Linked DNA regions of Homo sapiens: region 2 is linked to region 1. The links come from fine-mapping of genetic effects on plasma protein levels. Region 1 holds a variant in brackets. A gene starts in the other region. All regions are shown on their forward strands.

Region 1 (15,918 bases):
AAAAAACAAGCTCTTTATTTATTTATTTGGGCTTGTTAGTTTATAGTCACATGCCCTAAATTAAAGTGCTCACTTAAATTATAGTACAGGCCACATATGTTATAGGTGCCAGGAGGTAGGAATCAAGTTAGAAGTCTACTCCCCAAGTTCACATGTGTTAGTGTTAAAGTCAGAGTGGAATTGGAAGGGGGAGGTCAAATAAAAAATTAGAAGATATGGCTCCAGAGAGCTTGAGGTCTTGTGGACAGTCTTTCCCTCAATGGCAGGAAATAGGTAGGTCATTGTCAAAATTTATACTGCTGGGCTGTGTGGTACAGCCTCAAAGACTGTAGGAATTCAGCTAAGAAAAAGACAGTACAGTCTTGATTTAATTCTCCTTCAAATTCTACCATTACGTATTGTACTGCACCCCTCTCTCGCCTGGTCTATACTGATGTGGCTTTAGTCCAGTTGAATCCTTTTCTCTTTTGTGTGATTTATACCTGATGGTCTCATGAATGCTACTGAGCTGCAGCATCTGACAGACTTTCTGTTCACACAAAGGACTCCTTCATCCCTTCAACCTGGAGAAATGGATTTACTTGTTTATGCACATGTGCATTCAGCACAAAGGTTCATCTGTAAAGTTTTTTTTTTTAATGAAGGAAACAATAGGGAATTATAAGGTATTTCATCACAGAGGAGAGACTTTTCTGTGTGTGTGTGCATGTGTGTTGTGTGCGTGTATGTGTGTATGTGTGTAACTTGAAGGCACATCTAGTGACATTTCCATAAAGGTCATCAAAGGTCTGCGTATGCCATACTGTATCATAATTTCACATGGGTATGTATAATACAGGTGTATATCAATGTGTAATACTCTGTACTGTAAAGCGAAAGAGTTCACGTAGTGATGTAATAATGTAGCTATCTGAGCTCCAAAGAGACTTGTATTCTCAGTCTTCTGAGGCTGATATGTATTCCACGGGAGCTGACTGAAGGCCCTCGTGAAGCTCTTGCCAGGTATACATTACTTACGACCTCTTAGACAGATGCAATTATAAAGGAGCCATGACAATTACAGGACATGGTGATGGCAGAAGCAAGGTAAGTACTGGGTGTGTTAAGCCACTTCTGAAGGATAATCATGCAGTGTGTCGGTGTGGTAGGCACCCCCAAAGTGACCCAGCATAATCAAGGAGGCTACAGTTAGACAGGAAGAGAGAGCTCCATTTGTGCCTCCTTGAAATAAAAGCCACTGTACCCAGTTCTGATTCTCTATAAAGCTCCACTGGCTATTATTTGGAAATTCTCTTTCTTGCTTTCTCTCCCTCATTTCATTTTTATAATGAAATAAATAGAAAGGGTAAAATACAGTATTAAATTGCTTATTCTGTCTGATAATTCTTTCTGTCCTTCTTGATATATATAATCTCTGTGGTGGGTTTCTGGATGTGTTTAAAATTCCAAGAAGCAGTTTTTTTTTTTTTTTATCACTATAAAAGACCGATTGTTCAGGGGCTTATTTGTCACTTGATCAAATGTGTCTTTCTAATGAAGTCTGTTAACTAATAAGAATATACCAAGCAGGGATTGGGTAAGCTGCCATGAAAAATACTCTGTGGGGGTAATAAGAGAGAGAAAGAACATTTTTTGCTTTGAAGGAGCTCATAGTTAGATTGAGCATTATACTCCCCACAGTATAATTTATGAATCACTACTGTTAGAAGTGGGATTGTGTCCCTTCCCCTACACATAAAAAAAAGATATGTTGAAGTCATAATCCCCAGTACTTTGGAATGTGATCTGATTTGAAAATAGGCTCATTGCAGATATAATTAGTTGAGATGAGGTCATCCTGCAGGAGGGTGGGTCCCTAATCCAGTATGACTGGTGTCCTTATAAAAAGACAGCCATGTGAAGACTCAGTCACAGGGAGCCTGCCATGTGAAGATGAAGGCAGAAATTGAAGCTATGCAACTATAGCCAAGGAACACCAAAAATTGCCAGCAAACCACCAGATGCTAGAAGAGGCAAAGAAGGATCCTCCCTGGAGGCGTCAGAGAGATCATGGCCCAGCCAACACCGTGATTTCAGACTTCTAGCCCCCAGATTTGTGACAGGATAAGTTAGTGTTATAAGTCACCCAGTTTGTGGTACTTTGTTACTACAGTTCTAGGTTACCCATACACCTATCAAGCCAACTCTCCCTAAATCCTAGTATATATTGTTAGAAAAGATAAAAGGGCACTGAAGAGAGAGGAGGATGCCTTCCTTCCTTCCTTCTTTCTTTCTTTCTTCTTGTTTTTTTTGTTTTTTTGTTTTCTTTTTTTTTGTTTTTGACAGAGTCTCGCTCTGTCACCCAGGCTGGAATGCAGTGGTACAATCTTGGCTCGCTGCAGCCTCAACCTCCCAGGCTCAACAGATCCTCCTGCCCCAGCCTTTTGAGTAACTGGGACTACAGATGTGCACCACCATGTCCAGCTAATTTTTAAAAATGTTTTCATAGAGGTGAGGTCTCATTATGTTGCTCAGACTGGTCTCAAACTTCTGGGCTCAAACGATCCTTCCATCTCAGCGTCCCATAGTGCTGAGATTACAGGCGTGAGGCACCACGCCTGGCCTTGTTCTCCCTTCTAATGAACCAGCACATCCCTATTACCTGGACTGTGTTCTCTTAGTGCTGGTTTTTTGGATGTTCATAGTCATCCTTTTACACTCTCCTCTCTACAGGAAATCTTCCCTGACCTCATCTACCTGGCAAGGATAGATGCCCTGCCTGTAACATTTCCTGGTAACCTATGAACACATCGTTTTAAGTTTTTGTTGAGATGTCTATATTCCCTTACTACCCAATGCACTCCTTTAAGAACAGGCACCATCTTATTATCCTGGGGTATACGTATAATGCAATGCTTTGCTTACAGCCAGTGCTTAATATTTGTTGAACTAAACTGGAGGAAGTGAGGTATAAAATAAAATCAAACAAATGAATAAATGAGGACTCAAGTGCATACAAGATGCTCGGCAATGAATGAATGACTGAACAAACAAATTAACTGATCATATTAAATATTTGAATATTATTAGTTATTATTATTACTTTGAATGAGGGTAAAAGGCTCCTCCAAAGCCAATGAAAGCCTTCCAGAGTATGGATGTGGGAGTGATGTGTTGGAGAATCATTTGTTCCTGCTGTAGGTAAGCCAAGAAATGCTCACAAGAGTGTGTTCTCTGTGCCTGTCTGCCTGAGAGAAAATCTTGGTCTTTAATAACACGGTTTTGACCTAGAGAGTCAGATTTCTCCAAAATTAATCAATGAATATGTATTCTACCAGTGTCAGCAAACCAAAATATAAGGGTTTGTGGGGATTTAAATAAGTTTATGTTTCCCTCTCTCTTGTATGGGCTTAATATTCTATTGGAGGAAATGGACATTTCCACACATCCAGGATTACCCTTGAAGCCACTATGCGCAAGGGACCACATGCTCAGCAAATCCCGTAGCATTGCATGGGGAACTAGGGAAAGGGACCTGACTTTAGTTTAGAGTGAAAGTAAGCATGTCATTGAAAAACTGGGCTTCAAGTTTGGATTAGAAGAGTGGAAAGGCTTGTTTTGTTTTGTTTTTTAGGAGAAAACTGGAGGAGGGAAAGGCATTCTGATAGGGTTGCTAGTTAGAAGCCAAAGTTTGGAAGTTTGGAGTATATAATCCATGTTTTAGAGATATTGTTTAGATTAGGCTTCTAGGGATGAAAGGCGCGTGTGAGATGATAGGTTGGTGGCCAGTTGTGTTATCAATACTGAACTAAGGAATCTGGAGTTTATTCACTAGGCATTAGAAGCCTCTGAAAGTTTTTGACAAGGTAGGGAACATAATCATAACAATAACTCACACGTATTGAATACCAGGCAATGTGACTGATGCTCTCCCTACTCCGTGACACTTAATTTTCTCGACAAACATACAAGGTGCGTTTTACTATTCCTTTTCATTGATGAGAGAATTATAGATCCAGTAAGCCATAGTTTAGGCTTGTCTGACTCCAAAGCCTCTGCACCTTTTCGCTACGCTAATGATTTTCAAAGGCACTTGGCACAGCCCTATGGCTTCTTCAAAGAACTCTAAGGGACCACTGAGTAAATGGAATGGATTGATTGTCAGGTGGCCCAGATGGCCAGGACCCTTAGTCAATGAGTGAAATTCCACTTTTTTCTGCTGTATACCCTGCATATCACAGAGTGTTGATTTCAGAAATGGCCACCAGGAAGGAGGTAACTAAGAAGCCAGCAACAGGTTCTGGTTTTGGCCTTATGATTTTAACATTGTTATCACCAACATGATGAAGACATTGGCTGCACTGTTGCTAGTGCTCTGTGGCTCCGAAGAGTAGCTTATACATTGAATAGCAAACTGAAAATTCAGAGAGATTCCAAAAGGCTAAAACTTGGGTCAGATAATAGAGTTCAACATTAACAGATATATATGTGTAATTTGCATTTATGTTTGAAAAATGAATTATATAAATACAGGCTACAGCAGTGGTTCTCAGAGTAATCCCTGGTTAGCAGCTTCTACATCACCTGGGAACTTGTTAGAAATGCAGATTCTTGGGCCTCCACCTCATCCTATTAAATCAGAGGCTCTGGGGATGGGGCTTAGCAATCTGTGTTAATGAGCACTCCAGATGTTTCTGAAGCAGGCTAACATTGGAGACCACTGGGCTAGAAAGACCAACCCTCCTCCCTTCTTGCTTTGCATTATTTCTTTCTCTTTATTCCACCTCATTCCAGAAAGGATTTGGAGTGGAAAAATCTGACTTAACAACAGTTTGTGAATAAGAACAAAGGTTTTATTTTACAAAAAAATTTCTGTGACTCAATGATGTGTTGTGGCTGCTGCCAAAAGTAAATAGTTTGCATTAAAAGTAGTGACCAGAACAAGGGAAGCAATAGCTACTCCCCTCTTCACATTTGACAGGTTCTGTATATCTCCATATTCTGTTAGACCATATCTGGAGTTTGTTGAGGAACTAATTTTAAGAAGACATTGGAAAGGGTTTTAACAAGGATGGTGACACACCTTGAACTTTTGCCTTAAAGGGATCAGTTGAGGGAAGCCACCTCTTGTGACTAGAGCCTGACATGGAAAAGAAAGAATTTTACATCTTGCTCCAGAGGGCGAAAAACAATATTGGAAAGCCTTCTCCACTGGTATTAAGAGGGAAAGACATTAGTCCAGGCTCTTCCTGAAGGGCTTTGTTAACACACCTAAGTGCTTCAGGCTTCCGTTTTTTGTTTGTTTGTTTGTTTGTTTTTGTTTTTTATTTAGTTGGAGTCTTGCTCCATCACGGAGGCTGGAGTGCAGTGGTGTGTTCTCGGCTCACCACAAGCTCCGTCTCCTGGGTTCACGCCATTCTCCTGCCTCAGCCTCCCGAGTAGCTGGGATTACAGGTGCCAGCCACCACGCCCGGCTAATTTTTTGTATTTTTAGTAGAGACGGGATTTCACCGTGTTAGCCAGGATGGTCTTGATCTCCTGACCTCATAATCTGCCCACCTCAGCCTCCCAAAGTGCTAGGATTACAGATGTGAGCCACCGTGCCCGACCTGGTCTTCTGTTTCTTTTAGAATGCAGATAATAAGGGCCATGATGTTCATCCCACAAGATTTCTGTGAAGGGCTAAAAACATGGCAAAAAGTTCAAATATTTGAAAAACTACAATGGTTGTACAAATATGAGGCAATGGCGCTATTATTAAGGAAGACTAGTTGATGGAAATTTTAAGTCCAAGATAATGGAGAATCTCAACAATATGGATTGTCCAAAAGGGGGACGACCTTTCTCATTAAATAGTGAGTTCACGGTCATGAGAGGCCTTTAGACAAAGAGATGTTAGAGAATGAACTGTATGGGATTGAAGCAGATGGTTTCAAAGTGCCTTGCCAATGCCAGTATTTCATAATGCTGAAGTGAATGACTTGAGGTCAGGCAGATCTGAGAGACTCGTGCTCACAGCCAGCAGAGTGAATGTTTGATTCATCATTTGTTCATCACTACTTGCAAGTCACTGCAAACATTTAAAACATTTAAATACATTTAAACACTGAACACACTTAAAGATATTTAATGATTAAACATATTTAAAGCGTTAAAAACATTAAATGCATTTAAAAACAAGATGGGCCCACACTAATGAACCTGGTGTCAATTTTTCTCTACAGCACTATAGTTAAATTCCCTTTGCATTAGAAGTCTGATTGAATAGCCCCATGGTCTCCTGTGGATCTGTTGATGTATGAATTTGGAAAGTAACATTGAATTCCCAATGCTTTCTTATAACTCTTTGCAATGTCTCATAGACGTGTAAGAGATGTTGCCCTTAGTGTCTAACCCAAGTCCTGAGTTGTTTTACAGCATTTTTATTTTAAGGTTAAGATTTCTTCTGGCTATAATTTTGCATCTAGACTTCTACTTGTTTTTTCCCCCCTCAAACTATTGGGTAACATCAGTGACTTTCACCTTTATCCACTGCCCAGTTGGCTGCTTTCCAATGGCAGAGAAATGAATGGATGCTTTTGTGTAGGGAGTTGTGTAATTCAATGAAGAGCTTGGAGCCTTGCTGAAGGCGATATGTGGGTATTTCACACATATTATATCTAATGATTATATATCAGTAATGTAATGAAGGTGGCATTCAAACATCACTGTGGGTGGCAGCTAAGCCAAAGACAGCTAAATCTTATTTTTAATACATGAGAAGCCCCCTTTTCTAATTCAATCAGAAACAGTTGTTGGTCAGTTAAAGATTAAAAAATCAGTTAAAGCCAGGGATTAGAAAAACATAGGAGAGAGAAACAGAAAGAGAGAGATGCAAACCTTAAATTTTTAAAACTTAAAACAAATATATATGTATGTACATATGGATGTATACATACACATTCACATGCTGAGGCTGAGTTCTTTTTGTGAAAGGCCAAGGACTTTTCTTTGACATGGATGTGCCAATTACCAATCCATGTCATTTTGTTTTGTATAAATCACATTTATAGTGCATCATCTACAATTTCTATTTTTATTTTTCTGAAGTAGAGATGTTTAAGGACAATTGCTGAGCAACCTGAGTGTAGGATTCTTCTAACTTTTTATCGTATTATTTCTTCTGTAGCTGTCTCTCTCACACCTAAAATTAGAAAAAAAATTATTGTGATAAAATATACATAATATAAACATTACAGTTTAACCATCCTTTAAGTATACAAGTCAGCAGCATTAAGTACATTCACCACAATATTGTATAGCCATCACCACTATCCATTTCTAGAACTTTTTTTATCGCCAGCAGAAACTCTGTACCCATTAAACAATACCTTCTAATTACCTTCTACACCCCTACTAACCTCTAACCTCTATTCTGCTTCTTTTTTTTCTTCTTATTTATTTATTTTATTATTATACTTTAAGTTCTAGGGTACATGTGCACAATGTGCAGGTTTGTTACATATGTATACATGTGCCATGTTGGTGTGCTGCACCCATTAACTTGTCATTTACATTAGGTATATCTCCTAATGCTATCCCTCCCCTCTCCCCCCACCTCAGGACAAGCCCCAGTGTGTGATGTTCCCCTTCCTGTGTCCAAGTGTTCTCATTGTTCAATTCCCACCTATGAGTGAGAACATGCGGTGTTTGGTTTTCTGTCCTTGCGATAGTTTGCTGAGAATGATGGTTTCTAGCTTCATCCATGTCCCTACAGAAGACATGAACTCATCCTTTTTTTGACTGTGTAGTATTCCATGGTGTATATGTGCCACATTTTCTTAATCCAGTCTATCATTGATGGGCATTTGGGTTGGTTCCAAGTCTTTGCTATTGTGAATAGTGCCGCAATAAACATTCGTGTGCATGTGTCTTTATAGCAGCATGATTTATAATCCTTTGGGTATATACCCAGTAATGGGATGGCTGGGTCAAATGGTATTTCTACTTCTAGACCCTTGAGGAATTGCCACACTGTCTTCCACAATGGTTGAACTAGTTTACAGTCCCACCAACAGTGTAAAAGTGTTCCTATTTCTCCACATCCTCTCCAGCACCTGTTGTTTCCTGACTTTTTAATGACTGCCATTCTAACTGGTGTGAGATGGTATCTCATTGTGGTTTTGATTTGCATTTCTCTGATGGCCAGTGATGATGAGCATTTTTTCATGTATCTGTTGGCTGCATAAATGTCTTCTTTTGAGAAGTGTCTGTTCATATCCTTTGCCTACTTTTTGATGGGGTTGTTTGATTTTTTCTTGTAAATTTGTTTAAGTTCTTTGTAGATTCTGGATATTAGCCCTTTGTCAGATGGGTAGATTGCAAAAATTTTCTCCCATTCTGTAGGTTGCCTGTTCACTTTGATGGTAGTTTCTTTTTGCTGTGCAGAAGCTCTTTAGTTTAATTAGATCCCATTTGCCAATTTTGGCTTTTGTTGCCATTGCTTTTGGTGTTTTAGACATGAAGTCCTTGCCCATGCCCATGTCCTGAATGGTATTGCCTGGGTTTTCTTCTAGGGCTTTTATGGTTTTAGGTCTAACATTTAAGTCTTTAATCCATCTTGAATTAATTTTTGTATAAGGTGTAAGGAAGGGATCCAATTTCAGCTTTCTACATATGGCTAGCCAGTTTTCCCAGCACCATTTATTAAATAGGGAATCCTTTCTCCATTTCTTGTTTTTGTCAGGTTTGTCAAAGATCAGATGGTCGTAGATGTGTGGTGTTATTTCTGAGGGCTCTGTTCTGTTCCATTGATCTATATCTCTGTTTTGGTACCAGCACCATGCTTTTTTGGTTACTGTAGCCTTGTAGTATAGTTTGAAGTCAGGTAGCATGATGCTTCCAGCTTTGTTCTTTTGGCTTAGGTTTGTCTTGGCAATGTGGGCTCTTTTTTGGTTCCATATGAACTTTAAAGTAGTTTTTTCCAATTCTGTGAAGAAAGCCACTGGTAGCTTGATGGGGATGGCACTGAATCTATAAATTACCTTGGGCAGTATGGCCATTTTCACGATATTGATTCTCCCTATCCATGAGCATCTTTTTTTTTTTTTTTTTTTTTTTTCTGAGACAGAGTCTTGCTCTGTCAGCCAGGCTGGAGTGCAGTGGCACGATCTCAGCTCACTGCAACCTCCGCCTCCTGGGCTCAAGCAATTTTCCTGCCTCAGTCTCCCGAGTAGCTGGGATTACAGGTGTGTGCCACAACACCCAGCTAATTTTTGTATTTTTAATAGAGACGGGGTTTCACCATGTTGGCCAGGCTGGTCTCAAACTCCTGACCTCAGGTAATCCACCTGCCTTGGCCTCCCAAAGAGCTGGGATTACAGGCGTGAGCCACTGTGCCTGGCCTATTCTGCTTTTTATCTCTATGAATTTGCCTATTTAAAGTACCTTTTGTAAGTGGAATCACAATATTTGTCCTTCTGTGTCAGCTTATTTCACTTAGCATAATCCTCAGAGTTCATCCATGTCATGTAGCATGTGTCTGAATTTTATTCTTTCTTATGGCTGAATAATATCTTAGTGGATGAGTGTACTACATTTTGTTTATGCATTCATCTCTTGATGAGTACTTGAATTTTTTCCCACCTTTTGACTATTGTGAGTAATGCTGCTATGAACATTGATGTATAAGTATTGCTTGAGTGCCAGCTTTCAGTTCTTTTGGCTATATATCTTAAGAATGGAATTTCTGGATCATGGGGTAATTCAATGTTTGCCTTTTTGAGGAACTAGCAAACTGTTTTCCAAAAAACTTTCTTTCCTATAGGAACTTGTCTTTATGAAGACTTTCCAAGACAGTCAACTGGCTTTCGGAGAAGAAACAGCTCTCTTTACTTTTGGTCCTGCATTTCATCAGTTTCTAGACCATTTAATTAACTTGCATAATTACAATAACAAGTCCAAGTGTCATAAGCAGGTTTAGAAATGTATATCATTTCATGCTTTCTAGGGAAAAAAAGAAATGTATAAAATTGATATTTGTTAAGCATACAACTCAACTGGTAAGAGTGGAAGTGCTTGGAGAGTAACTTTCCCCAATGATCCCCAGTGTGCTTTGGGCATCAGCCAATATATATTATAAAACACAGAATTAATGGAGAATGCTGGTTACTCTGGCCAGTTAAGGGGAGGCCAGTTAAGAGAGCTTCTACTATTCAACTAAATTATCTTTGTCATGATAAGATACATAAAGAGGCCGGGCGTGGTAGCTCAAGCCTGTAATCCTAGCACTTTGGGAGGCTGAGGTGGGTGGCTCGAGACCAGCCTGGGCAACATGGCAAAACCCCGTCTCTACTAAAAATATAAAAAATTAGCCGGGCATGGGTGGCGCACACCTGTAGTCCCAGCTACTCCGGAGTCTGAGGCGAGAGAATCACTTGAACCCTGGAGGCGGAGGTTGCAGTGAGCCAAGATCACACCACTGTACTCCAACCTGGGTGATAGAGTGAGACCCTGTCTCAAAAAAAAAAAAAGTATAAAGAAATTTAGAAGCAAATGACTCATGAATCTAGAAAAACAATTAACAGCTACATATCCACAACTACTAACATTCAATACTCTTGTTGTTTGGAGACCTGAGAAAGACAGACAGCAAAGGCTAAAATAGAATGGGAAGTTGACTGATCTGGTCACTTCCTGTATAAACTTTTGAATGTAAGCAGCAGGTTGATTTTCCATGCCTTCTTCTCTTACAGTTCAATTTAGTGTGGGTGATAAATGGGAGATAAACAGAGGATAGTGAGGTTGTGCCTATTCTTAGGAAGAAGATACCTTTCAAGTTAAGATTCAAGACTTTACGATGTGATTAGAAGGTTTTCTAGATAGTTCTGAAGCAAAATCATGAAGCTGTAGGAGGAATACTTTTATATAGCATCATTCATCCTTGTTAGCAACCCAAATGATTAAAGGTTTGGGAAATTACACCTTTAAATATGGTCTAAAGGAACTGGGTTTATTTAGTTTAGAGAAAGCAAGCAAGCACGCTGAGGGGGACTTAATCATAGTCTCCAAGAATATGAGGGATATTCTCTGAGTGATGGAAAGCAGCTGTTTCCTGTTTCCACTAAGGACTGGATAAGAAGAATGGAGTTAACATGCAACAAGTGGGTTAAGAACTCTTTGGCCATGAAGTTCAAGACAACAAATCCACCAGACAAAAGTCGCTACTGTGTTTGAGAATTATGTAGCTAACTAACTGTATTTCTTGGGTGGTTTATATGTGGCCTGTTCATGAGTCTGGAGCTAGTGAAAAAGATCCAGAGGACCTTTCACCCAAGTGAGAGGATGAGATTGTCTGTTTTCTGAGCCTACCAGTGCTCTGTGGTTGAGGAAGCTCTTATCGTAGTTCTCCTAGTAGGATTTAAAAGAGAAAAAGCTTCAGAGTCTCTTTGCTGCTCTTTGGACTCTTTCCAAGTAAGATAATCTAAATGTACTCCTTTTCTATAAGGTGGAAGATTTATATAGATTTGGCATTATGTGTCTTTTCTGCTTATTTGGTCGATATGGCCATAATTTTTAAAAATTCTGTGTCTTTAGTGAAACTGGACATATATATACACACATATATACATGTATATGTATGTATATGTCATAGACATTTGACATGTATATCATAAGTAATTAATTCAGCAATGGAGACAATGTTTAGTTCTAGGTAGTATGTCTAAATGTTAGCTATGTGAATAAGATAATACACTGTGCTAATTAGCAGCACAGAAATATGCAAAGCATTTTGTAAAAATGCACTGTTGCAGATTAGCTAGGGGAAGAATTTAGAGACAAAACGATGAGTTCTGTGAATGTTACCAGTTTTTAGTCAATGAGGCAGATCAGAATGCCTGAAAACTGCTTCTCAACCATTGTTTTTCTTATTCCTGTTCCATAGTAGGTTAATTATACCATTTATTCAGAATTAGATAAGTGATGTCTTACTTTCCCAACTGGGAGTATTTTCAAGGCAAGGTTTGATTCCTAGGAGATGGACTGCTATTAAGCTGTATCTTTAAAGCTGTAGCTTTATGCCAACATTCATTGTGTATACGTTCCACTATCTTATATTTTCATCTTGTACCAGCATTTATTTTAATCTTATTTAAAAATCTTTGCCTCTGTCATTGAATGTTTTCTTGACTCAATAACTTGTTTGGCCTTTAAAAATCCAGCACTGAAGTGGGAAAATGACTCGGGATTGAGTTGGATCATCTCTTCACACTTGTTCACTGGGAGGCATTGGGCAAGTTAGTTAACCTCCTTGAGTTTGCTTCCTTAATCTACCCTACAGGAACATTTTGAGGATTAAATAAAATAAAATAATGCATGCCAAGCCCAGAGCGTAGTGTACCCAGCCCTCAAGTCATGTTTATCTGCTTTCTTTAATTCGCAAAGAACATTTCTTACCTATCATAGAGCCATTGTTGCCTCCACATTCTCTTCTTTTAGTGGAGGTTTTGGACCACAGGGGCAGATCTGTAGAATAAGTCTTGTGTAAAATTCATGAGGGCACCCAAGGGTCTAATTGTATGAATCTCCTTCCTTTTCTATATTTACTTAATCCAGAAAAAAGTCTACCATTATGGCAAGTATTTTAGGAAGCGTCTGTTGCCAAATTACCTGAAACAAATCATGTACACACATGGAAGGAAAGTACATTTTCAGATGAGTGGAAAGATGATGCATTTTTGTTTTACAAGGTTTAAAGGATAGTTAATAAATCTTCTAGATACTGAAATAAACATTTAATAGATATTGATTCAATTGAGTGCTATGGTTTGAAACGATATCAAATTGAAGACATGATCCCTGACCTGGGAAGTTTTATGAATTTGCTGGAGAGACCAAGCCCATAGGTATGGAATGACCACAAAACAGAGTAGTACAAAAATCCGGAAGAGTAGTACAAAAATGACAGCTTGAACCCCTAAGTACTGAGGAAAGGCAGCATACAGGGTTTCAGTAGGGATTTACTATAGTAGACTTAGAATCATGATTTAGTTCCTAAAACCACTATCATTTCAAAATAGAATTTTTTTAAAACCACCTAAAATATTCACTTCCTTTCGAAACCTAGGAACATACTACAGTTGCGCTTTACTCATTTGAGATAAATACACCTTTCTTGAAATGTTAACTTTTTCTTTATTTTTTTTGTTTTTGAGAGGCAATCCCACTCTGTCACCCAGGCTGGAGTGCAGTAATGCCACCTCGGCTCACTGCAACCTCCGTCTCCCGGGTTCGGGTGATTGTCCTGCTTCAGCCTCCCGAGTAGCTGGGATTACAGGCGCCCACCACTGTGCCTGGCTAATTTTTGTGTTTAGTAGAGACAGGGTTTTACCATGTTGGCCAGGCTGGTCTTGAACTCCTGACTTCAAGTGATCCGTCCAACTCAGCCTCCCAAAGTGCTGGGATTACGGTGAGCCACCACGCCCAGCCTGAGATAAATACATCTTCCTAAAGCCTCAGTGTTTAGGCTGGTTTGCTTTCAGATATTCATCTATGCACCATACCAAACTACTTCTGCTGAGATTCATTCTGAGTCTGCAGGGGATGGAATACCTTTATAAATCATAACAAATCACATTAAGAGTAAAATATCCCAGCTAGGGACTTACCTCAAAAGCTGAGGCATGACACATATTTTAATGGCAATGGATTTGGAAACCAAGGTTAGGACCGTTCTTTCTTTATTAGAAGGAGATTTATAATTCAGGGCCTTTGAGAGTGAGCCTGGGTCCTCTGAACTGGACTTCTCCTCTTGTCCCTTCCTGTACCCCAACTCCCCAAATTAAATAAGTAGGGAAGCAGAACAAGAAAACCATTAACTTAATAGCATAGAATTTATGGCTGAAATCTTGCAAAGCTTATGTCAGCAAAGTAAAATAATTACTGTCACTTTCTTTTAGACACTTGGCTTTATGGTTCCTGTCACCTTTATCATAACATGCAGCTGATTTAGTAGCTATTTTTTCATGGCAAATAGCCTGGTGTTGTGTTTTTATGCATGTGACCATGCAATTGAGATGACAATGCATGGCTATACTACAGTAGAGCTAAATTTAGGTAATGAATTAGAACACTGTTAATAGTTTTGGTTTAGTCATGCTGTCAGAATGCCAACTCAGCCTTTTCTCTTGCTCTTTTTCCCCTCCAGATTCTCAAGTCCAAAGATTTAACATCTCCAACCCAGCGCTACATCGACAGCAAAGTTGTGAAAACAAGAGCAGAAGGCGAATGGCTCTCCTTCGATGTAACTGATGCT[G/C]TTCATGAATGGCTTCACCATAAAGGTTACAAGCCACTCTCTCTTTTCCTCCCAAGATGTTCAGTATCCCTAAGTTACTTTAAATTGATTGCAGATTTAAGGGTATAGACACACATACAAATGACCTCCTTGACTTAATGTTTTCCAGACAGGAACCTGGGATTTAAAATAAGCTTACACTGTCCCTGCTGCACTTTTGTACCATCTAATAATTACATCATCCCAAATAAAAGTGAAGAACTAGAAGCAAGATTTGCAGGTAACCAAAACTTGGTCATATGAGGTGGGGGAGGGAAGGGTCTATATTGATAATCTCATGGGGGATAAAATCAGTTTGCATGTGAAAATGAGACTGGTAAGGCCTGGGGAGTTTCATTCATTTGGACAGTGATATGGTTGGATATACATATGTGAAGGGAGAAAGGATTGGAAGAACGGAATAGGTTCCCAGTTTATAATTCTCAATGCCCAGTGATGACTTGGTCAATAATAACTGATTAACTCATTAACCCTCCAGTAGTAAGTTAAGGCCTTTGTTCTTCATTGTAGCAAACCAACTTTCCATCTATACTGATATTATAGAGAAAGATAGAATGTGTTTAAGAAAATTCATTGATAATCCCCCAAACCAAATGTCAGGAACTGACAACCGTATTTCACAGAAGAAAGGAGTCTCCTCCTGCTACAGCTTCCATAACTAACCTTCCATGTATAAGAACATTCCACCTTTTCTAGTCCATACCCAGTATTTCAAGTGGGTTCCTTATCAGAATTTTATATTAGTTTATAAACACATAAAAATGTTTTGGCTTTCCCCACGCTTACCTTTAAGTAAGTTGGACAAAAGTCATGGAGAGTGAGGCGATACCAAGGGCTCAAGTCACTTCATGTATTAGATGATGAGTTGTTGGATGATGAGAGGTGAGAGGAAATCCATGCCTATGTGCCGATACAGCATCTGCCCACAATGCCAGGCCAGAGAATTGATTTCCCTGCCCTCCTAACATCACCCAGGACCTCCATCCACTTTTAGAAGACTACAGCAGCCCTTGCTCATGGAAAAATACTCCCAGAGGTCTAGAGATTTATTTCAGTCTCTAACCTAGTCATGATTCTCTGGAGTGTGGAGATTAAATGCTTAAACTGGCAGTCTCTTGAGCATGCTTTGGGGAGCTCAAGTTTCTAAATCTCAGATGGAATCAGGAAAGTGTTGAGGATGCCATAAAATAAATGAAAAAGCCCTTTCTTCACAGCTTCCCAAAATAGCATTAGGTAAGGGTGACTTCTGTTTCACTTGAACCTAATTCACTCCAATTCAGTTAAGTCTCAGTTTATGTTCATTAGGAAAGTCTTTTGAGTTTAGTAGTCTTAGGAAGAGTGTGAACCAGCGGGTGACAAGGCATGTTCTATTGCCATGTGTTCAGTTGTTGAGGGCTTGAACGCAGCCTAAACTGAGGATTGACTAAAATAAACTGCCTAGATTGCCCTTGGACTATAGGTCAAAGACTGCTTCTGTAGTGACTTTCATAACCAACAGCCCTGGCTTTGACACCGAACTGCCTTCTGACAAGAGCCCCATTTAGAAGTGTTAATTGTCACGTGGGTTAGTCGTAGTCCTGTTGTGCCATATCTATTTCCATGGGGAA
Region 2 (16,448 bases), not on the chromosome of region 1:
TGCAGACTCCCAGGACTTTCCCACTCACAACCCGTCAAGCAATTAAGTGGTCCCCGGGCAGCAGTGTGGTTGGTAACTGGGTTACGAAGCTCCTGAATGCAGCTGCTAGGTTCACACACCACACTTCCACAGATTCAGCCAGTAGGGGGACCATGAAGTCAAATACAGTCAGACATTTTATTACATACACAAAAAACATAAGCATCACCTGTATGGTGTCAGCTCCCTGCATCTCTAATTCCATAGAATGACACTGAACAGAGAGGCCAGATGACAGATGGCACAGGTGGTAGGTCGTTCTGCTACTGAGGAGTCAGCTCTACCCCTTAGCCAAATAGGTATACTCACAAAGAAGTCTGCAGTTGAACCCTAAGGGAGCAAGGTCAAAAGTCCTGTGCTCAACTGAAACTAAAGAGACGAATGAGAAATGGCCTTGTGGTCATCTTCCACAAGGTAGGGAGGTGGGTGGGAACTGCCCATGGCATCTCTTCACCAGCTTGCTTATCCTTTCCTGCTGCAGGAGGAATTGCAGGGTACTTTGCCAAGACTCAGGTTGTACTGCAGTCAATTCTGGTCCCATATGTAATCCATAAAGACATGGTTGGTATGGAGTTGTGCAAGGTTGTCAGGAAGTTGCAGCAGAGCAGCTCCCCTGAATACCTCTTCCAGATCTCAAAGTTTGGGAAGCATTGAGTGTCCTGGACGTTTCAGAAGGAGGCTGGCCACATAGGAGTGTGGACTGGCTAAAAAAAGCTTTTGACGCATCAAAGAGGGTGACTCTTACAAGATAATTCATGGTAGACATGCAGGACCTCGCCAGGCAGTGGTGTGCTCAATGGCTGCTCACCCACTGTGTGGGTGGATGGTCTGTAGGTATCAGCGTGGCCACAGTGTAACTGCTTCTCAAAGATGACTCTGCCCTTTTCCCAGGATCACCCTGTATTTTGTCCTCTCATTTCAAGTCCTTCTTACCTCCTTCAACACGATGACTCAATCAATATCCTCTGCAGCTGGTAGCAGACAGGATAGCAGAGGGGACCCATCTTTAATCTGTGAGGCTCACTAAATATCCCTCTCCTTTTCAGTTTATTATTGTGACATAAATTCTATGCCCTGCATCCTTCATAGTTGGCCATGTTGATTTTCTACCACGCTTTCTTTAACCAAAAAGGTAAAACAAACAATACTTTTGCAAAACTAAAGCTTTAGCTTTCAAAATGATTGTTTCTGATGCGGGCTTCAAGAGTCTATTTCAGCAGTAAGAAAACAAATGTTGACTTTCTTTTCATTTGGATCCTTTCTGTCAAAAACTCCAATCCTTCTCCAGGCAAAGTGGATCTCTTTGAATGATGAGGAGAACAAATAGTGGAAGTGTGAGAAAGGCAGAAAAGCATACACACTTTTTTCCTTTTCTTTTGAAAAGGAAAATCTAAAGTAAAGAAACATGAATCTCGGGTTAAAAAAAAGAATCAACATCAATTGAAAGTAAACCATGAAGCAATGACTTGGACATTTTGTTTATCCATGTACAGTGTAGCAAATATTTTCTGCCCTAGCTCTTTAAAATACTTAGTGGGTTAGAAACTCATTAACTTGATTTGTTGGTTGAAGAATAAAGGTTCTCATGCAAATTACATTCTGTTACATCCTGGTCTTTCTCAGGAGGCTTCTCCCTTGTATCTCATGGTTCCCAGGGTCCAGGAAGATAAGACCACCATTAATATGTACAGAATTCATCTTATCTCTTTTTAAAATATAAATTCTGCCCTCACTATTTTAATAAGGGGTCAGCAAGCTTTCACTAAAAAGCAAAAGTCAGCAAACTTCTTTTTTAAAAGACCAGATAGAAAGTATTCTTGGCTTTGCAGAATTTGTGCTGTCGATTTTACAGAACTAACCTACAGCTAGAACCAAGATCAAGCTTCCCCTCAGCTGGCTAAGTGGTGAGACATACCTGATCATTCTTGTTACAGAATTCTGAAAGACAGTATAGTGAAAAAGTTACCTTTAAATATTATTTATCAAAGATAATACTTCTTGCTGTGCCTAGGTCCTGGAACTGTCAGAAACATCAAATAGCTGCAGAGGGTGGATTGCTTTGCAGGCTATATGGTTTCTGTCACAATTACTCAACTCTGACACTGTAGTGAAAGCAGCCATAGACAATTCGTAAACAAATGAACATGACTGTGTTCCAATAAAACTTTATCTGCCAAAACAGGTGATGAGTCAGATTTGGCCCACAGGCCATAGTTCACTGATCCCCTTTTAGATGATTGTATAAACTATGATCATTTTGAAAATGTTGTTGTCATTAATCACTTAAGAGATAAATTGTATCTTTTTCTCTTTTCTTTGTGTTTTTTTTGTTTGTTTGTTTTCAATTTGAAGCTTTGTCCTTTGCTTCAAACTTTGTTTAAAAACTCAGGAACATTTCTGATGTTTGATAGAGCAACCTGAGGATTTTCTCCTTTCTGCAGCTACATATTTATGTATTAGTTTTATTTTTTGAGACAGGGTCTTGCTCTGTCACCCAGGCTGGAGTGCAGTGGTGCAATCACAGCTCACTGCAGGCTCGACCTCCCAGGCTCAGGTGATCCTCCTGCCTCAGCGGCCCCAAGAGCTGGGACTACAGGTGTGCACCACCACACCAGGGTAATTTTTGTATTTTCTAGTAGACAAGGTTTTGCCATGCTGCTGAGGCTAGTCTCCATCTCTGGCTCAAGCAATCCACCCTCTGCAGCTATTTGATGAGATGTTTCTGACAGTTCCAGGACCTAGGCACAGCAAGAAGTATTATCTTTGATAAATAATATTTAAAGGTAACTTTTTCACTATACTGTCTTTCAAAATTCTGTAACAAGAATGATCAGGTATGTCTCACCTCTTAGCCAGCTGAGGGGAAGCTTGATCTTGGTTCTAGCTGTAGGTTAGTTCTGTAAAATCAACAGCACAACCATTACTCCTGCTACATAAAATGGGCCATGATCAAATCCAGTACACCAAACATTCTGAGAATAACTGTCAGTGAATGCCCAATACCTGAATTACACCCGGGGTATGTCTTAGGCACACTGTATTCTCCAAAAATGACTGAAACGTTATCTCCCATTCCTCAAGCTATTCTGCAATGTGAGGCTGCCACTTCTCCATCAAGGTGTGAGGCCTATTTCTGCACCCGCTTCAATCTGACAGTTTTGACGAACAAGTGGAGAGTAACTGTGCAACAGTCCCAGGCTTAGGCCATAAAACTAGCCTGTCAATCTCTGCTTTCAATTTGCATGGAAACTTTTATTCTTAGACCAACAAATCCAGTTAATTAATTTTTAACCGACTATCTTTTTTTCTTCAACTTTTAAGGTCTGTACATGCGCAGGATGTGCGGGTTTGTTAACGCAGGTAAATGTGTGTCATGGTGATTTACTGCACAGTACCTCCTATCGCCTAGGTATCAAGCCCAGCATGCATTAGCTATTATTCCTGATACCCCACCTCCAACAGGCCCCAGTGTGTGTTTTTCCCCTCCCTGTGTCCATGTGTTCTCATTATTCAACTCCCACTTATAAGTGAGAACGTGCAGTATTTGGTTTTCTGTTCCTGCATTGGTTTGCTGGGGATAATGGCTTCTGGCTCCATCGATGTCCCTGCAGAGGACATGATCTCATTCTTTTTTATGGCTGCATAGTATTCCATGGTGTACACATGCCACATTTTCTTTATCCAGTATATCATTGATGGGCATTTATATCATTTTCTTTATCCAGTATATCATTGATGCACATTCATGTCTTTGCTATTGTGAATAGTGCTGCAATAAACATACATGTGCATGTTTCTTTATAATAGAATGCTTTATATTCTTTATATTCTTTTTTTTTTTTTGAGACAGAGTCTTACGCTGTCATCAGGCAGGGGTGCAGTGCCATGATTTCCACTCACTACAACCTCTGCCTCCCGGGTTCAAGGGATTCTCCTGCCTTAGCCTCCCAAGTAGCTAGGACTGCAGGTGCACACCACCACAACAGTTTTTTTTTTTGTTTTTGTTTTTTGTTTTTGTTTTTTTTTGCTAGAGATGGGGTTTCAACATGTTGGCCAGGATGGTCTCGATCTCTTGACCTCGTGATCTGCTACATTCCTTTGGATATATACCCAGTAATGGGATTGCTGGGTCAAGTGGTATTTCTGCCTCTAGGTCTTTGAGGAATTGCCACACTGTCTTCCACAATGGTTAACTAATTTATACTCCCACCAACAGTGTAAAAGCATTCCTTTTTATCTGCAGCCTCACCAACATCTGTTGTTTTTTTGACTTTTTAATAATAGTAATTGTGACGTGTGAGATGGTATCTCATTGTGGTTTTGATTTGCATTTCTGTAATGATCAGTGGGGATGTTGAGCTTTTTTTCACGTATTTGCTGGCCACATGTATGTCTTCTTTTCTAAAGTGTCTAATTATGTTCTTTCCCCACTTTTTAATGGGGCTGTTGGTTTTTGTTTTTTTCTTGTAAATTTGTTTAAGTTTCTTATAGACTCTGGATATTAGACCTTTGTCAGATGGATAGATTGCAAACATTTTTTCCCATTCTGTGGGTTGTCTATTCACTCGGATGATAGATTCTTTTGCTGTGCAGAAGCTCTTTAGTTTAATTAGATCCCATTTCTGACTGAGCATTTTAAATCCTGAGCTACCATATAGGAAGTCCAGCCTATTCTGCAGGACAGAGTGATCATGTGGAGAAGCACTGTGGCATATCGGATGTGCAGCTCAGTCAAGTTTTGGGATGACTCTTGCACCCCATCTCTGACTGTGCCATTTGAGAAATCACAAGTGAGAATCATGCAGCTGAGCCAAGTCAACACACAGAACCTTGAGAGAAAACAGTGAATTTGTATTTCAAACTACGAAAAGTTTTAAGGTGGTATGTTTATAGCAACAGATAACTGGAACAGGAACTGACAAGCATAGAGAAAATCTGGGTTGGTGAGAATTAAGGAATTCATGAAAAAAGAGATAAAATAAAATGATAACACAATGCAGATAAACATGGAATTAAAAATAAGCTAAGACGATATACACCCTAATTTGGTAAGAAAATATTAATACATGTTCGATACAATGAATAGCTAGCTGGTAAAAGTCCTCAAGTTCTGTATCCTGAGAAGAAGATTCTTGGTCTTGAAAAACAAAACAGCAACCTCTGAAAAAGACTATTATGAGGGTAAGAGATATTTTCCTCTTGAGGTCACACAACAAAGTTTTGCAGCCACTTCCAGCAATGTCACCATGTCCTGAAGGAAAGGGCTAGCATCATTATAATTATATTTTAACTACATCCTCTGAGTTACATTTTAAGGTGGAGTAAGACATCTCTCTAATATAAAAATAAAAGCAAATTATATTGACATGTCTTCTCTTTGCTTGTAATAGAGGAATGGGTAAACAAAAAGCCCAGAGGAATGAACACAGCTAACTTCATGCTCTGCTGTGACCCTCCATGATTCTGCATCTGGCTGAAATTTTTATGGCTTCTGTTGAAATTCCCAAATGCTGACAGAAAAAATAATAACTAAAAATAAAATTAATTTGAGGGTAAAGGAGAAAGTTGGTTGTAAGTGATGCTTTAGAAAAGGTGACCTTTTTGAGCTTAGGATGATTATTGATACTCATGAATGAACACGTTTAAAATGAAAACATTCCTTCTGCTAAAAACAGGGCAAGACTCCCAGCACACTCATTCTGGACTCTTATTTTGGATATCAGTGGGAAGTAAATACTTCTATGAAATGCCTAAAGCCTTGACCAATCTAAGCATCTGTATGGTAAAGAAGAGATTACTCAACATGGACCCCTCTGTTCTATTCACAACACTTCAAAGACTTCCCCACTGATCCAGGAGGGGAAATACTGTATATTTGTAATGTATGTAAATTAGAAGATAGAGAGTTATTTTGGCAAGTTAGAACATACAGAAAAGTATATTGTATATGTAAAACAGAAACTTATTTTAGTTAGAACATATGGAAAAGTGTATTGTGTGAGTCTGTCTAAAATGATGACAGAGAAATGTGTTACCTTAATAGAGTCAAGAATAAATTGGGGACCATGATAGCAGGGGAAAAAGGACTTCCTAGAATACTAAGTTTAAAAAAAAATGTATACCAAAGCAATTAATCCCAGAGCACAAGTACAGAAAAGATGGGTCCTAGAAATAGATGAGAAAATAAAACAAACAAACAAAAAAGCCTTATTCCTGGGTGAGAGTCTAATAGCTGGAACTGATAGTATAGGTTCCTAGTTAGCTAGCATTTTATATGATTGTTCACACTCAAGTGATCGATAAGAAATGAAAAACCCACGACAGGATGAAGCATGTTCCATGGAGTACTTCCTTCCAGATTCTCTTTGAGGAGCAACTCTGTGTGTCAGTCTGACCCAGCAAAGTCAGGCTAGGTGCATCATTGGTGGAGGTGTCCATTTTTGAACCAGGAACGAGGAACCAGAAAAAAGTTCAAGTGTCCATTTCTTTCCCTTCTCAGTTGTTTCCCATTTTTCTTTGTTTTGTTTTGTTTTCCAGTTAAATAGAGATGGTGTGAAGATACATATTTTTTTTACAGACTCCTGGTTTTAACTTCAGTTATTGGTTCCTTAGAAATGCCATGGCAAAACTCTCTATTATACAATAACCTTTAGGAAACTTATATTGAGTTTTTGAAGTTCAATTTCAACACAGAGGGCAAGTTTTAAGAGGGTAGAAGTAAAAATCTCTACTGCATGGAACTTAGGCAAAGGATCATTCTCCTAATTTTTTTTCCCCAGAATTTCTTCTCTGCAACCTTCTAGCCAGAATAGGCTCTCATTTTTTTTTGCTTTTGTCAATTGTAGGTTCTAAATTTAAAACTCAAGTTGAATTTTTTTATGTAGCTTTGAATTCATTTTAGCTTTGAGAGCAGTATATTTAGCTACTGCCAGTTCACCCCTTGGTAGGACTAGTAGCTAAGCCAGTTTTTTTCTCTTAAAACTCTATAAATTTTCTTATCCTAGAACACAGGTTTTTCTAGATCATAATTAATTTTCCATCACTCAAATGAAAGGGAAATCTTTTTCATGCACACTGAAATTTATTTGAAACTAAGAAAAATGCATTTGAGGAATATCTGAAATTATTTATAAAATTATAGCAATAAAAAAATGAACATTTCCTAAGGCACATATCAAGTGTTTGCTCTATAACTGGATCATTCAAAATATAAAGTTAATGTTATGAAACAGTGTAACAGCTTAAAACACTGCATTATATACACATTATTATAGAAATTCCTGAATTATTTATTGCTTCAATAGCATATCCAAAGTTGAAAATGAGCATTTTTTGTGGATTTCACTTGTCTTCCATTTAGAAAGCTCTATATTTCCATTCAGTCTCAGAGTTGGCTGAACACTCTTTGTTGCCTTCTTTCCTTCCTTGACTTCCATTCCCTTGTTAGCTCCTTTCTATATCACCCAAATCCTTTTTTTTTTTTTTTTTGGACTTTGCTGAAATTCTGGTCATGGATACTGTGCTCCTTATTTTCAGTTGGAGAAACTGAGGCACAGAAAAGTTCAAATTAGTTGTTTAATCAACTTGCCACAGTAAACAGGTGGTAGAGTCAGGATTTGAACTCAAGTCTGTTTGCCTCCAAAGCTACTAGAGTTCTAGAGTTCAATATTTCCACTGTCAATGACAATATTCAAATATTCTAAAATCTATGCTTGAATGGTTGTAAGTCAACAGTGGCCCCACCCAATAGCTCAAACCTAGTCCTGGAAGATGTTCTTAAAAGCAGTTCTGTAAAAGCAGAACTACTGTTTGATCCAGTAATCCCATTACTGGGTATATACCCGGAGGAATATAACACATTCTTCCATAAAGACACATGCACACGGCTGTTCATTGCAGCCCTGTTCACAATGGGAAAGACATGGAATCAACTTAAATGCCTATCAGTGACAGACTGGATAAAGAAAATGTGGTATGTATACACCATGGAATATTATGCAGCTATAAAAATGAAAGAGATCATGTCCTTTGTGGGAACATGGCTGGAGCTGGAGGCCATTATCTTCAGCAAACTAACGCAGGAACAGAAAACCAAATACCACATGTTCTCACTTATAAGTGGGAGCTAAATGATAAGAACTTATGAACACAAAGAAGGAAACAACAGACATTGGGGTCTACTTGAGGGTGAAGGGTGGGAAGAAGGAGAGGAACAGAAAAGATAACTATTGGGTACTGAGCTTAATACCTGGGTGATGTAGTAATATGTACAACAAACCCCAGGGACATGTGTTTATCTATGTAATGAACCTTCACATGTACCTCCAAACCTAAATAAAAATTTTTTTAACAAGAAGACATGAGGTGAGGGAGAGGAGGAAAAGCAGCTCTGGATACTCAAAAGAGGAACAGCAGAATTTAGATATGATAAAAAAAAAAAAAGAGAGAGTTAGCTTGACCTAGAAAAGGCACCATTTTCTCAGGTAGAACTTATGAAATACTGTTTTGTTTGTGTTTTATGTTTTGGTTTTTGTCTATTTGGAGGGTTGAGATAAATTGACAGTTTACACTTAAATCTTATTATATATCATTTGTATATATAATATACAACTGTTAAAGGTGTGTTTCACTGTAGGTAGTTCTTATCACAAAGTATAGGTTAAATAACTCTTACATAATTTCTTATTGATGCTTTAATATATAGTCATAATGTCAATGACCTTTACAGGTATTATAATATTTTTATATTAAGTGGAACCTCTCAAACTATTACAATTATTTTGGTAGCCAGTTTGGGCAAAACAAGAGAGCAGGCAATCGCACTGGAAAGGCTTATTCTAGTATAGGTTTGTTACTTGTTTCATTAAGAAATTGAGTGTCTTAAATTGTCCATCTTATAAAATTTGTCTAAATCCAAACTCACAATATTTTCCTCAAAACCATTTTCTTCTGCATTTTTTCCAATATGAAGAAAAAATCAACTTTACTCTTCCAGTTGCTCAGGTCAAAACCTTGGTGTCATCCTGATTCTTGATTGTTTTCTCACAGGCCACATCTGGTACCTCAGCAAATCCTATTACCATTTTTCCCCAAACTTCTTCAGAATATGACCACGTCTCATCATCCCTTCTGCCGCACTCAGGTTCAAGCCTCCATCATCTCTGGCTGGGATTATTACAAGAGCTTCCTAGCCATTCTCTCTGCCTTTTTCCTACTTCAGTCACTCCTCAATCATGCCTGTGCTTAAAACCTCCAAGGACTTTTCTTCTCACTCATAGCAATGTCAAAAGCATTGCAATGACCTACAGGTCCTATACCATCTGCCATCTAATACCCTTCTGACCTCATTTGTTGCTATTCCCCTTGCTCAGGCCTCCAACCAAAGTGGCCTCTTCTCTGTTCCTGGAACAAGTCACAAGGCTTTTATTTCTGGGGCACTATTTTTCTTATTTCTTCTTCCTGGAATGGTCTTCCCATAGACAGTCATATGGCTGCAGGCTTATCTGAGTCTGTTCATGCTGCTACTACAGAATACCACAGACTGGGTAATTTATAAAAAACAGAAATTTATTTCACACAGTTCTGGAGGCTGGGAATTCCGCAATGAAGAGGCCAGCATGTTCATTGCCTGACGAGGGCTGTCTATCTCTTCTTCCAATTTGGCACCTTGCTACTGCATCTCCAGAGGGGACAAATGCTGTGTCTTCACACTGCAGACAAGCAGAAGGGCAAAAAGGGACTAGCTAGTTTCTTCTTGCCCTTTTATAAGGTCATTAATCCCATTCATACTGGGGTCTGCCTTCATGACTTAATCACCTTCTAAAGAGCCCATCTCTCAATACTGTCACCTTGGGTTTAAGTTCTAACATGGGAATTTTGGAGGGACACGTACATTGAAACCATAACAAGGTCTTTACTCAAAAGTTGCCTTCTCATTGAGGCCTTCCCAGGACTTCCTATCTAAAATTTCAACCCAGTGTCCCCACCCCCAATGCTTGTTACTCCCCAACAATACTTTTTCTCCTTAGACTTAGTATATGTCACTATCTAATCTATTTAACTCATTTATCTTGTTTATTATCTGTCTCCCTTATTGGATTCTAAGCTCCAGGAAGACAGGGATTTTTTTCTGTCTTGTTTTGTTCACTGCAGTTTCGCCAATGCCTGTCACACAGTAGGCACCTAAAACATTTTTGTTAAATGTTGCTGAATTTCACTTAGATAAAATTGACATCATAAACTTTCTACATAAAAGGATAGCAAAAATGTTTTCCATTTCTAAACTTGTTAGGTATTCAGTCAGTCCTAATTAGCAGTTCTGAAATCAATTTTGATTATCTGACAACATGATGTCCAAACTGAGGTATTTATATTTTCTGTTTATCCCACTTTCTGGAACATTTGATAGTAGCTTTCTACCACAAACACATTTTTAGATTAAAATTACTTCACCCCCTATGGTTATCTGTGGGCGCTTGTAACAAATTGTTTGCTAGCGCTGAGTGAGCCAGTGCTGATTGGCCATTGGGAACTCTAACAAACTTTAAATTTCAGCAAAATGCCCAGAGACTTCTAATCCTGCAACAAGAAGCCAGGTATTCTGAAGGTGAAAGATACCAGGTAATTTGGCTTTCATGTTCTTGACAGCAAATAGCTTTATATCATAGTTGTTTACGTTTTTAAGATGCTTGCCACCCAAGTATGGTTTTATTACTTTTGAAAATCTTCTCTACTGAGCAAAACTGTGTAATATTTGGTGCTTTGTTTTATAAAATAGGAAATGCGTTACCATGCTCTAGAAATCATCAACTAAAATTGATGATTTGATAGCAACTTTCTCTTTTTTTTTGTTATTAGCATTATCAAGATCCACAGTAACTCAGACTTCAGTTTTCTTCTATCCCTTCACTTAACAAACTGCAATCAGGAAAATCTGATCTTATTCATACTTTGAAACCTCATCTGTGTTGATATTTCTACTGATGAGCATTAACTCATTTCATAAGTTACTTACGTTGTCCTGATCTATAAAATGCTTGGAAGGGTAAACTATAGTTAGAATTTAGATCCTTCTAATTGCATTAATTTAGAAAAACATAGCCTAGGATTTTAGAATATATTTAATAGTTACAATCATTTCTCCAAATACCAGCTTTTCCTTGAGGTGTTTAAAGATTGCAAGAATATTTAGATTATTTTTTCCCATAAAAACAAGTTTTTCTTCAAGAAATCTCAGAGTGGCATAAATTTATTGTTTTCACAATATAATAATAAGATCAATAGTCCAAAGACATGTTGACTTTTTTCCAATCTAATGGCTACTTAAGTGAGCTCACTAGTTCCTGTTGGTATATTTACCAAAATATAAACAAATACCTTTATTTGTAACTAAATGTTAGTATTTTGAACATCATTTTGTTGAGCCCAATATAAAATATGATTTGCCTTTAAGTCAACTGTACATGGATTTTTCTGTAATAAGATAAAAGAATAGAAAGTTATTTAAGGTGGCAGAGAGTCTTGATGAAGAAAACTGGGTCTAGAGCCACATTGCCTGGATACTAATCCCAGTTCTGCCCCTTAATATTTGTGAATTCTAAAGCAAGTTATTTGATCTTTTTGTGTCTATTTCCTAATCTATACAACAGGCATAGTAACGCCGCCTAACTTGTAGGGTTGTTGTGAGGCTCAAATAATTGAATGCATGCAAAATTCTTAGACCCAGTGCTTGGCTCATTTTAGTATTCAATAAATGTTAGCCATTAATGTCAGTGTTGCAAAAATTAGTTCACTCTCCAGCCCATGGATGGCTACTAATTCAGACACATTGCTAATGAACATGAGACACAGATTAGGGCACCAGCCCGGAGGCAGATAAGCTTTCCTCACAGTGCAATCTGCTACCCTGACAAACTTAGAGTGTGTTATGAGCTGCTACATCAACTTAATGTCATTTTGAATTACACAAATAATTAAACAATCTCTTTCTAAAGACAAGAGGAAGAAGAGCTGATGATAGAGCAAATAAATGTGTCTATAAAATATATTTCTATCAACTGACTTTACTGTTTTAATGATATTGAATAATTTTCATTTTCACATTGGAATAACTAGACATATGAAAGTTCTTAAAATGTCCACACTCGGGTATAAGCAAGTTATACATAGTCTATACACACACATACACAAAAGGATATGAACTGCCAAGGGGAAGGGTGTTTATATATTCCTATGTGTTTTATCTCTTCTTATGGCTGCAGTTTATAACTGGCAATGCTTTGTGGTAAGATATTGTTGTCTTTTTACAGAGATTCTCAAAGATGCGAGTTTTCTGTGTGGGACTACTCCTTTTCAGTGTGACCTGGGCAGCACCAGTAAGTATTTACAAATTCAATTATATTTCAGATAATCTCTTGCTCTCTTCATTTGTTTTTCTTTCAAGCAACGTCTATTTAAATTAGTAGCATCTACCTAATTCAGTTATTTTAAAAAGAACCAAGCAAACAGAAAGCATCTAGCACTTAACACTCTTAACAAAGGAGGTTCTCAATAAACATGTGCTGAATTATGAGATCTGACAACATTGTCTTTTAAGGAACACCAAAAACAGATTTTTTGAGAAAACCAAGAGGCAGCCGCAGCATTTCAAATCAGCTGATACTAATGAGTGATACTCAAAGACTCAAATTATAACATGGTAAAATAATCTTTGACTATTTTCCTGTAAACTTAAAGAATTTGACATGAATGTTTTAAAGCTAACCAGCTAGATTTAGTAAATAGATAAAAATGCAAAGAGACAAGAACTCTTCTGTATTTCTTGCAACACCCCAATACTGTGGGATCCTACTTGTGATTTTCTCTTCATCAGCGAGGCTAGAGGTGGGACGTAGTACCTCCAAGCTTAACCCAAATCAAGCTCCTACTTCCTTGTGTGTCTTTTCTTCCCTCTGACTCACCCAGTTGAATATTCAGGATGTGACCAAATTATCTTGTGAAAATGCTGAGTGTTAGTTATTTTCTGCAATGCAGACACAGTGCTAATTAGATAATGTCTGAGCAGCATCCTAACTTATCAGAATAACCTTTTTGGTTGGAGAACCATGGAAACAAATAGTCATCCCATTGCCAATCATACTTATATATAGGTCCTGAGTGAGTGGGTGACTGCTAGGGTAACCAGGCTGATGAGGATGACCAGGGAAGCAGAGGGCCTCATGGAGGGCAGTGGAAGTTGGGGAAATGTGTTCCCTTCTCCGCACACACTCTGTGCAACAAGGGTGTGCAGTACAGTACTGTGGAGGCTGTACTGCTCACAACACACATTTGCGAGACCCCATGCACAGACCTCACTCAATCAAGGCCTAGAGGCTCAGGTGCCTCTCCCACCTCTCACGGTGGAAAAATGAGTCTTGCTGACCTAGCTCAAGTTGGCCAGCTGAAGATTTTATTTTGAGCAACATGTTCCAAGAAGCAGCTGGAGTGGGGCTTTCTCATCATTTTCCAGTAAATGTGCTATGTCAACATTGATTCAGTGACCACTGATCAGAAGAGGATGCCAGCTTTCCTGCCCAGAGGCAGACAATGCCATCTCCATTACAGGGCCACATTCAAGCCTAAGACATCTGCTTGGGGGTATAGAGGGGACAAGGGAGGGATGCGTATTTCAAATGAAAGCAGCTCAGCAAGGATGCAGAGGCAACATTTGTAACTGTGAATCATTAAATATGATGTTTTCTTCCAGGTATATAGATGCCATTTTAGTAATTACCTGAATTTTTAAATGATAGATTGGTGGCTTAAGAAATTAGTATATACTCAGCCACTTGCATACGTCTTAGAATTATAAGCCAAATTCTAAATGATTTTTAAAAGGAAGAAAATGAATGTTTATTAGGCTATGCAATTCGGTTAATATTCATCAAGATGCAGTTAGACTAGAAAGACTTTGTTATAAGTCACAATAAATCAAAACTGTACCGAGGTACTCTATATTGTCAAGTATGTTTCTAATCCATATGTGTGTGTGTGTGTGTGTTCTGTAAGAAGATCCCTGACACCCCATACTATCATTTCTTTCTTTTGCTTAATATCTGCCCATCTCATTTTTATGCTTTCTTCTTCCTATAGTCCAATTTCCAGAACTGTTTGCCCTGGTTTTATATTTTTGAAGAGTGATATAATTGTCCAAATTTATATTCACATGATCATATAAGAATCAACATAAGAAATGCAATAAAGGATAAAACTATAAAAGATGCCTTGACGATAATTAATATAAAGTTTAGGAACATTTCCTCTTATTACTAAATGCTTTTTCATATTTAATCATTCAAAAATTTATTATTTTAACCCTGGGACTTTGAGGCAGAAGATTTAAATTAAAATATCTTCTCTACTTCTACTGCAACTACCAACTATGAGTGTAGGCACTTCTGTTTCTTCTACTGCTCATCTTATAAAGGTTACTTTGGGACTCATATGAGATTATAAGTACAAAAGCAGTTTACAAACTATAAAGAGTCCTATAAATAGAAGGTGTTATTGATAAACTATTGTTATTTTCTAGAATGGAATTGAATATTAGGCAGCTATGCCTTGGAGTCCAGCCATGGAGGTGCTTTCTAAACTTCTGAGTTTTATATTTTGAAGATGATTTTATCTGCCAGAGTCCAGTCCAGAAAACAAAATCCACTACAGGGAGCTCAGTAGAGCGACTTTCTAAGGGAAGCTAGCTATAAAGTATAAGGAAGAACAGAAAAGCCAACCAGGGGTGGTGAGACCACCCAAGGATCGAAGCTATTACCAGGCTTAGGGCTGGAAGGAAAAAAAAAGGTGCTGCTCCTAGGCCCCTGGCTGGGGGAACTAGGACCACAAAGGAGATGTACCCAACTCTAGAGATGCAGCCCCAAACACGGAGAGTAGAGAAGGACATACCCTGGCTTCTCTCTCCTTCCCCCCCTCCAGACTCATGCCAGGCCTCCTTCACCCAAACCCAGTCTGAACACAGAGGGCAAATGAGCTTGGGAAATGAAGGAATCAGTTCAGATTGAGCTGGAGATACAAAGGAGCTGAGAGCAAGCAGGGGCATTCCCAATATCTTAGTGCAAGCAACAACCTGTCTGTATTAAACAAAATATAGAAGCTTAAGGCTTCTTCAGGAAGAACACTTTCCAGGTAAATAGGACAGCTGGCCTAGGCGGCCCTCTTTCTGTTTATCTCTTTATTCAATCTTTCCCTTAAGGGGTTCTCTCTTTTATATGATTGATCCACCATGATGCCTGCTTCCACTGTAGCACACCCATTCAAACACGGCCCAGTCCGCCCATTGGTTCCCAGTGCCACATCTGAGATAGGCTAGGAGTTTCTGAAAGAAAGAGGTAAATGAAAAATACTGAGAATTAAAGAACTTACATCTATTCCTTTAATAAAACAGTTGCTCTCAGATTTTAGGGTCCCTGTTCTGTGTGCTTTCCTGTGGTATGCAAACTTCAGCCCAAAGGACTGGGACAAACTGCCGAGGTCTGTTCTTTCTTCATTTCTGCCCTTTCTGCGCTTCAATAGCTACCCCTCACCCTACGCTACCCTCAAGAAATTTTGACACTTTATGTCAAACCAAGAAACAGAATTTATCCTAATCTGCTGGCCACCTCCATTTTTCCTTCTCAGAATGTAACATCTGGCAGCAATAAGTTTTTGTCCTTAATTGCGATCCTACCATTCACATGAACGGCTATGGTTTGACTCTCCCTGGGCCATCAGCAGCATCATATCTTAATTCAATATTACAGTTACTCAACTTATATAATTAATGCACACACACAATTTAAATCGTCAAACTCTGATTTTAGTTCACTTATATTTAACAACTCCCAGTTTGCCAGTGAAAACTTCTTTTTCAGTGGATTCTGATGGCAGCCAAGCTCCTTCGTCTGGGGTGCCATCCCTCCCTACTCCCCCACCACACCCACTTAGCGGTTGTCTGAGCTTGAATCCAGTTCTGTAGTGGAGACGGCACTGTCTCCCTCTGGGGGCAGAAAGCTGGCACTGTCTTTCGTAATATTGAAACAAATATTATATTAATGCGATGAGTGTGTCAATCTTCTTTTGGTTAGAATGATTTTCCACAGTGAATAATACAACTCAGTGAGAGAAAAATAAATGAAACATTTGTTTGAAGAAGTTAATGAAATAGAATGTTCTAGTGGGTGAAGTTTTGTTTCTTGTTTCCTTTCAGACATTTCAACCACAGACTGAGAAAACTAAGCAAAGCTGTGTGGAAGAGCAGAGGGTAAACAGAATTCATCTTTTCAAATAACTCTATTTCAGCTCTATAAAGAAAAAGTCAGTAAGAGAAAAGTGTAACTGTCAAAATAGTCTTGGGCACTTTGAATGGAAGTGAAAAAATA

Direction of the effects. Alleles are on the strand shown, and positions count from the first base shown. The strength of an association depends on the size of the effect and on how common the allele is.
For the plasma level of the protein whose gene starts at base 10,614 in region 2, C is the high allele of the variant in region 1 and G is the other (weak association).

What was found. A credible set is the group of variants that fine-mapping cannot tell apart. PIP is the posterior inclusion probability: the model's chance that the variant is causal. Protein levels are from antibody-based Olink assays in UK Biobank. Linkage for the fine-mapping came from a reference panel and not from the study's own genotypes, which makes the PIPs less certain.
Region 2: MEPE starts here. The variant in region 1 is the best candidate, but not a certain one, in a credible set for the plasma level of the MEPE protein (UK Biobank, PIP 0.90).

The regions. Positions count from the first base shown.
Region 1 is chr1:218,419,918-218,435,835 of GRCh38, forward strand. TGFB2 (transforming growth factor beta 2) reads left to right here. Exons shown (of 7, transcript NM_003238.6): 3 at 14,165-14,297; 4 at 14,421-14,531. Among named protein-coding and RNA genes, the nearest start is that of TGFB2-OT1, 15 kb to the right of the region's middle. The variant G/C (reference allele first, on the strand shown) is at 14,273.
Region 2 is chr4:87,822,356-87,838,803 of GRCh38, forward strand. MEPE (matrix extracellular phosphoglycoprotein) reads left to right here and starts at 10,614. Exons shown (of 4, transcript NM_020203.6): 1 at 10,614-10,659; 2 at 12,348-12,413; 3 at 16,277-16,330. The coding sequence starts at 12,360.